2 linked regions of the Homo sapiens genome follow. Each later gene encodes a partner of the first gene's protein in a complex. Each region holds a gene or a part of one and is shown on either strand. Other genes may lie near its edges. The genes, in order: STRAP and GEMIN2.

Region 1 (3,924 bases):
GCTCCTAATCTATACATTTTCTCATTAGGTTCCATGGATTAAAATATTTATGGATCATTGTTGATCTATATCTCACCTTTCTGTGTGACAGAATAATTAGTGGACTGTAGGAAATTAAGAGGCAAAGTGTGTAAAAGAGCTCCACCTGGTGGCTCTCTATAGTCATAATAAAAATTGATTCCCTGAGAAATAGGCAGTGAGTTTTAGGATATGGAAATTGGAGGTTGAACTGGTAAGACTTTAAATCTACTTTCTATAGAATTAATGGGGTTTTCATTTACCTCTTTTTCTCCATCCTTAATGAGACATGAAGCCTCATTTGCTTTTTTTAGAGGGACAGTTTGAAACTAGAATGTGTGCTAGATTTGGAAAGGAATAATCTTACAGAGAAAGGGTCAATGATATACCACTTTTGTGATGAGAAATTAATTAAGTACAGGTTTTAATGTTTGCCTTAAGAATTTTCCATCTCCCCAGTAACACAGACAGTATTTTTTTTTTTTAGCATATCAATATTTAACCTAATAGTTAAAATTATCTAATAGCCCTCTTCTTTTTCAGAATCCTACAAGGGACACTTTGGTCCTATTCACTGTGTGAGATTTAGTCCTGATGGAGAACTCTATGCCAGTGGTTCAGAAGATGGAACATTGAGACTATGGCAAACTGTGGTAGGAAAAACGTATGGCCTTTGGAAATGTGTGCTTCCTGGTAAGAATTTTTATTCAGAATAATAAAATTTTTAAAATGCATGATTTTATGTCATTTTTAATCATTAATTTTATTTCAGGGTTCCTGTTTTCTATAAATTTTAAATTATATATTATGGTTTAAGCAGCGAGAAGCCCAGGATTATAAATTGGCCAGAGAAAGGGTCATGTTCCTTTGTTTAAATTTTTTTTGGTATGGCTGGGCACGGTGGCTCACGCCTGTAATCCCAGCACTTTGGGAGGCTGAGGCGGGCGGATCACAGGGTCAGGAGTTCGAGACCAGCCTGGCCAACATGGTGAAACCCCATCTCTACTAAAAATACAAAAATTAGCCAGGTGTGGTGGTACATGCCTGTAATCCCAGCTACTCAGGAGGCTGAGGCACGAGAATTGCATGAACCCAGGAGCCATGCATTGAGCTGAGATCACGCCACTGCACTCCAGCCTGGGCAAGAGTGACTCAGTCTCAAAAAAAAAAAAAAGAAAAATTTGTTGTACAATCTAGTCTGTTCCTAAATTTTTATACTAGCACATTTTGTGGCTGGAATAGATCTAATTCAAAATTTGCTGGAAGGCAATATAAAGAATTTACAAGTAAATGTATCTAATCTCTGAATAGTATTACTCACTGATCCACACCAATAAAGATAGACATGTTCTTAATAAAAAATACCTAGTTACTAATCCCTAAGTAGTTGCAGTATGAACCTAAAAGTAATTTTAAAGAAAGACATACTATTTTTAGAATCACAGTTATTTAAAAAGGAGTTGTTTTTATTATATTTTGTAGCCATTTTCCTGGAATAGTCTTATGTTGCTCTTCTTGCTTATTGAACACTGGAAATTACTTTAATAGTGTAAGTCATATAATCGTCATTGCTTTTCTTTTTACAGAAGAAGATAGTGGTGAGCTGGCAAAGCCAAAGATTGGTTTTCCAGAGACAACAGAAGAGGAGCTAGGTAAATGCTATGGAATTGACTTTTGTAAGAGTCTTGGGGGATTTAAAATTGAACTGTAACAGAAGTTTTACTCATTGGCAGAAGAAATTTATTAAATATGAACATATTTAAATAATGGAAACTTTAAATATTTATGCATGTATATATACATATTTATAAGCTAAATATTTAAATACCTACTGCATAGTAGTAATAGGCACAGAGATGTAGTATGGACACAACCGATGTGGTTACTCTTTCAGAGCTAGAGTCTAACTTAGGAGACATGCCAAAACACAAATTATTGTAAGGGGGATTAAAAAAAGCTTCCTAGAGAAGTGACATTTAAACTGGGAACTAAGGATGAGCAGAAATGATTTAGGTGAGGTCATGAGAGGGGGTGTTGGTAGGGACAGGATGGAAAAGTTCATAGCAGGAAAACTATGTTAACTAAAAGTTCAGAACCAAAAAGGAGCATAGCATATGAGGAACTAAAAGAACTTCTCCATGCCTCCAGGTTAAAGAGCAAAGGCAAAGTGAAGCTGGAGAAGCTAGATCATCTGAGGGCCTCATTTGCTGTATTAGGACTTGGAGAGTTTTATACTAAGAGCAATGAGAAACCTTTGAATTTTAAGAAGAGGACTTTAAAAGATTGCCTTGGTAGTTCAAGACCAACCTGGCCAACATGGTGAAACCCTGTCTCTACTAAAAATACAAAAATTAGCCGGTCATGGTGGCAGATACCTGTAATCCCAGCTATTTAGGAGGCTGAAGCAGGAGAGTAGCTTGAACCCAGGAGGTAGAGGTTGCAGCGAGCCGAGATTGCGCCACTGCACTCCAGCTTGGGTGTCAGAGAGAGACTCTGTCTCAAAAAAAAAAAAAAAAAAAAGGTTGCCTTGGCTGTTGCACGTACAAAGAATTGGACTGGGAACAAGAGTGAACATAAACCAGTTAGGGGGCATTGTAGTCTAGATGAGTGATCATGTAGGTTTTGTTTTGTTTTGAGATGGAGTCTTGCTCTGTTGCCCAGGCTGGAGTGCAGTGGCATGATCTCGACTCACTGCAGCCTCCGCCTCTGGTTTCAAGCAATTCTCCTGCGTAAGCCTCCTGGGTAGTTGGGATTACAGGTGCACCACCACGCCTGGCTAATTTTTGTATTTTTAGTAGAGATGGGGTTTCACCATGTTGATCAGGCTGGTCTTGAACTCCTGACCTCATGATCTGCCCACCTCGGCCTCCCAAAGTGCTGGGATTACAGGCGTGAGCCACTGCACCCGGCCTATCATGTAGTTTTTAATAAGGGTATTGCAATGAGAACAGAAAAAGGTAGATGGAGTTGAGAGTCTTTTGTTAGACTTGTTAGAATTGTGAGATTGATGAGTGGGGGTATCATGAGGAAGAAATATGCAGATTGCTGCCATGAGAAACTGGGTATGATGATTTTGGGGGAGGTTGGGAAGGTGTTTACCATTTACCCAATAGAGTTTTCCTTAAATTTTTTATTGTTAAGCACCTTCTTGCTAAAACAATGTTGATGGTTAATGTTTTGCTTTAAATAGCACTAAATATTAGGATTTGAATCACTAAAAGAGAGGGCCAGATCCTTCGAAGACATGACTTTAATTCCGGGTTTGTTATATAGCTGGAGTCTTTGAAAATTTAGGCCAGAAAGGGACCCTTGGAGGTTGAGTTATGGTGTAAGAGAATCTAGTGGATAAAACACATGAACTCTTTCTTCTTTGCCTTTTCAATGACATGAGTCTAGTTGTTAGTGGCATGTGCAGTTGCTCTCTTCTTTCCCTTACCACAGTATGCTTTACAAACACTTTTTCATTCCTTCATTACACAGAAATGTAGATTTGCTTCTTTCTTTCATTAAGTTGACTAATGTGACTTTTTTTTTTTTTTTTTTTTTTTACTTATAGAAGAAATTGCTTCAGAGAATTCAGATTGCATCTTTCCTTCAGCTCCTGATGTTAAGGCCTGAGCGTCAATCATATGTGCAGTTAGTATACAACTGACTAAAACAAGCAAGCAGAGAAAAGCATCAGCCTTCCAGAGTTACTGTCTGCTTAAGGCAGAAACAGCAGTAAATAATGAGGAAAATGAATTAGCTCCAGTGCTGGAACAACTAACTAACTTGGTGTTACCTGTAAGTGAAAACTCAAGTGTCAGATGAAGGGAGGTGGAGTTATCCTCTTATAGTACAGTGGCCTGTTATCTTTTTAATGAATATATACAAGCCAACATCCAATTTCTATTATTACAATTAGGG
Region 2 (3,924 bases), on another chromosome or scaffold:
TTTCATTAATTACTGGTTTGCTGAGCTACCAATTACTTAACCTTTCTGAATCTGTGTCATTATCTGTAAAAGGAAAAAAATCAAGTCCAACAGAGCTGAAAGGAAAAAATTTATTAAAACAAAAACAAAAACAAAAACACAACTCTGATCTATTGTAAAGAGTAGAGATACTATACATAAAGTAAGTAGGGCAATGCTATATCATCTCATTTAACTGCTACTACCAACAGATGAGGTAGGTATTAGCTTAATTTTTGATCAGCATAGTTAAAAGTTTAGCTCCGGAGTCAAAGTTGCCTGGGTTTGGATCATTACTCTAACACTTACTAGCTTTGTGATGGTAGTAATATTATTTAACCTCTCTCTGCCATGGTTTCCTCATCTGTAAACTGTTAACAGTACCCACCTTAGAAGGATTAAATGGGTTCCTCACTAAGAAAAATGCTTGGCACAAATTGCCCAGTAAATGTTAATTATCATCAGCAGCATAATTATTGTAGATCAAGAAACTAGATATTGAATATGTGAAAATATGGAAACAAGATTACTTGCCTTCCCAATATTTAAGTATATTATAAAGCTTTAAAAAGGTACTGGCAATGAAATAAAAACACTGATCTATGGAACAAAAATATGTCCAGGAGGAGACCTAAAATAAATATGTGTGTTTTACTGCCTGGCCAATAATGGTGAAACTCCGTCTCCACAAAATTACAAAAATTAGCCGGGCATGATGGCAGGTGCCTGTAAGCCCAGCTACTTGGGAGGCTGAGGGGGGAGAATTGCTTGAACCCAGGAGGTGAAGGTTGTAGTGAGCCGAGATGGTGCCATTGCACTCCAGCCTGGGCAACAGAGCGAGACTCTGTCTCAAAACAAAACAACAAAAAAAGTTTTCAAATAAATTCCAAGAAGAATTTCTATGTAAGAAATGAAATAAAACAGATACTAAATAAAAATATGCCACAACTGAAAATGAACGCAGGACACAGGCAATTAAACAAAAATGCAGGCTGAATGCAGTGGCTTTACACCTGTAATCCCTGCACTTTCGGAGGCTTAGGTGGGAGGATCGCTTGAGCCCAGGAGTTTTGAGACCAGCCTGGGCAACATAGTGAGACCCTGTCTCTACGAACAATTTTTTTTAATTAGCCAGGTGTGGTGGTGCTTGGTTGTGGTCCTAGCTACTCAGGAGGCTGAGGTGGGAGGATTGCTGGAGCCCAGGAAGTTAAAGCTCTAGTGAGCTGTGATTGCGCCACTGCACCCTAACTATAGCAACAGAGTGAGACTCAAAAAAAAACCAACCAAACAAAAACCAAATGTAATAAATACGATCTAACCTCACTGACCTCACTGATAAATAATAAAGAAGCCAAGGATTAACTATACCTGCTAACCAAGCAGATTAATAAATTCAAAGCAGGAACCCTCTCATCATCTTTGCTATCCTAAAAAAAAAAAAAGAAAAATTTAAATATTGTCTGTTCCTATTACTTTTGAAATAAATTTTCTATTAAGATGTAAAACACGAAACATGAAAACTTTATTATATGACAGTAATCATCATGTGGAAATAGGAGCCCTCAAAGAAAAAGCAGAGAACTGTAGAGTTAATGATTCCTTGAGAAACATCTAAGACTATCTTTTAAATAAAGATTCTGAATAGGGAAAAAAAAATAAAGAGGGATCTAAGGGGGATAACTTGGGGGAAATTTTTCCCTGGTTCCTACTAAAGGAACAATAAGAATCCTGTGTCTTAACTGTACAGTGATGAATATATATATATATATTCATATATATTATATATGTGTCTTAACTGTAGTGAATATGTATTCATATATAATAAATATATATTAATATACATATATGAATAAATATATTTATCACTGTAGTCAAGACACAGGATTCTTATTGTTCCTCTATATAATGCATACAATATATGTGAGGATATATATAGAATATATATGAATATATATAATATATATTAATCACTGTACAGTCAAGACACAGGATTCTTACTGTTCTTATATATATTCATTACTGAATTATATAAAGATATATATATAAAGATATATATATATACACACACACACACACACATATATATACACACACACACACACACACACACACCAGGTGCAGTAGCTCATGCCTGTAATCCCAGCACTTTGGGAGGCTGAGGCAGGTGGATCACTTGAAGTCAGCAGTTTGAGACCAGTCTGGCCAACATGGTGAAACCCTGTCTCTACTAAAAATACAAAAATTAGCCAGGCATGGTGGCGGGCACCTGTAATCTCAGCTACTCTGGAGGCTAAGGCAGGAGAATTGCTTGAACCTGGGAAGCGGAGGTTGCAGTGAGCCGAGACCGCACCATTGCACTCCAGCCTCGGTGACAGAGCGAGACTCCATCTCACAATAAAAGAAAAAAAAAAAAAAAAAAAAAAGGCTGAAGCTACAGCAGCCATCTTGGATCATAAGATGAGCATGAGGATGAAAGCCACATATGACAAAACTCAAAGGTGTGGGTGGGTTACTGCCATCTTAGTAAAAATCTAATTTTTTTACCTACTTCTTTTTTGAGACAGAGTCTTGCTCTGTTGCCCAGGCAGGAGTGCAGTGGTGCAATCTCAGCTCACTGCAACCTCCGCCTCCTGGGTTCGAACGATTCTCCTGCCTCAGCCTCCTGAGTAGCTGGGATGACAAGCACCCACCACCACACCCAGCTAAATTTTGTATTTTTAGTAGAGACGGGGTTTCACCATGTGGGCCAGGTTGGTCTCAAACTCCTGACCTCAGGTGAGCCACCCGCCTCAGCCTCCCAAAGTGCTGGGATTATAGGTGTGAGCCACCACGCCCGGCTCAGACTTCTTTATCTCAGAAAACATTTCCATATTATTTAAGCTACTATTATTTTGGGCTTTACAAATCTAATTGCCACCAATAAAATATTCCATGTGTTTTCCTATTTCACTGAACTCCTTCTTTACCACCATATAAATTGGTGGGTGCTTTTAATTTTAAACAGTAAGTTGCAACTTACCACTAAGAGCCTCACTTCAGAGCACCTTCTTGCAAGCTGCCGAATCAGTGAATGAGCCTCAGGTAACAAAGGCTTTTCAAGACAAGCCAATAAAGCATAAAGCCATCTTCCCTAAAAAAAAATTCAAAAAATTAATATTTAGACAAATACTGAACCAGAAGTTTATTTTTTAAATGTCCAATGTTATGCCTGATTATCTGCTATGAATAAATTCATAGAACATTTAACTATATTATGTTTGGGTATAGACAAGAAAGCCTCATTTGGAGAGCCAGGTGTTATCTCTTGTATCCTATAATTACAGACACAGGACATTGGATACCTCAAAATATTCCCTGATCTCCAAAGAGTTTGTTTCAGATATTCTTATGATAGGAAGTTCTCATTTGTAAGCAGAACACTACATTAAGATGAATATAAATACTGGAAAAAATTAAGATACATTTTTTTCTTTGTTCTGTATGGACAGATATAGAAATCATTTTATAATTGTATAATTTTGTCCTCTGGGGACATACAAAGAAACTATACTACAGATGAAATAATCTTTTGACACTTTTATAAATACTTTGACAGGCTCAATGTATCCCCACTCCCTTTTAAAATGGGGTTTTCAGCTACAAAATGAATACATATTTGATGCAGAAAAACTGTGAAGAATACCACAAGCACAAGAAAAAACCTGCAGTCCCAACATTCCAGATCAAACTTTGATTCACTTTAAAAATGTTCTTGTTTTTCCTATTCGTATGTACAACTTTCTTTTTTTTTGAGACAGAGTTTCACTCTTGTTGCCCAGGCTGGAGTGCAATGGCGCGATCTCGGCTCACTGCAACCTCTGCCTCCCGGGTTCAAGCAATTCTCCTGTCTCAGCATCCTGAGTACCT

Evidence for each region.
Region 2: STRAP (region 1) and GEMIN2 share a complex: the UniProt entries of both Homo sapiens proteins name them as parts of the SMN-Sm complex.

What each region holds. Positions count from the first base shown.
Region 1 is NC_000012.12:15,899,343-15,903,266, forward strand, and holds part of STRAP (serine-threonine kinase receptor-associated protein), read left to right. Parts: intron 1-561; coding exon 562-711; intron 712-1,604; coding exon 1,605-1,670; intron 1,671-3,574; coding exon 3,575-3,636; 3' UTR 3,637-3,924. UniProt on the Homo sapiens protein: The SMN complex catalyzes the assembly of small nuclear ribonucleoproteins (snRNPs), the building blocks of the spliceosome, and thereby plays an important role in the splicing of cellular pre-mRNAs.
Region 2 is NC_000014.9:39,131,182-39,135,105, reverse strand, and holds part of GEMIN2 (gem-associated protein 2), read right to left. Parts: intron 3,149-3,924; coding exon 3,038-3,148; intron 1,446-3,037; coding exon 1,387-1,445; intron 1-1,386. UniProt on the Homo sapiens protein: The SMN complex catalyzes the assembly of small nuclear ribonucleoproteins (snRNPs), the building blocks of the spliceosome, and thereby plays an important role in the splicing of cellular pre-mRNAs.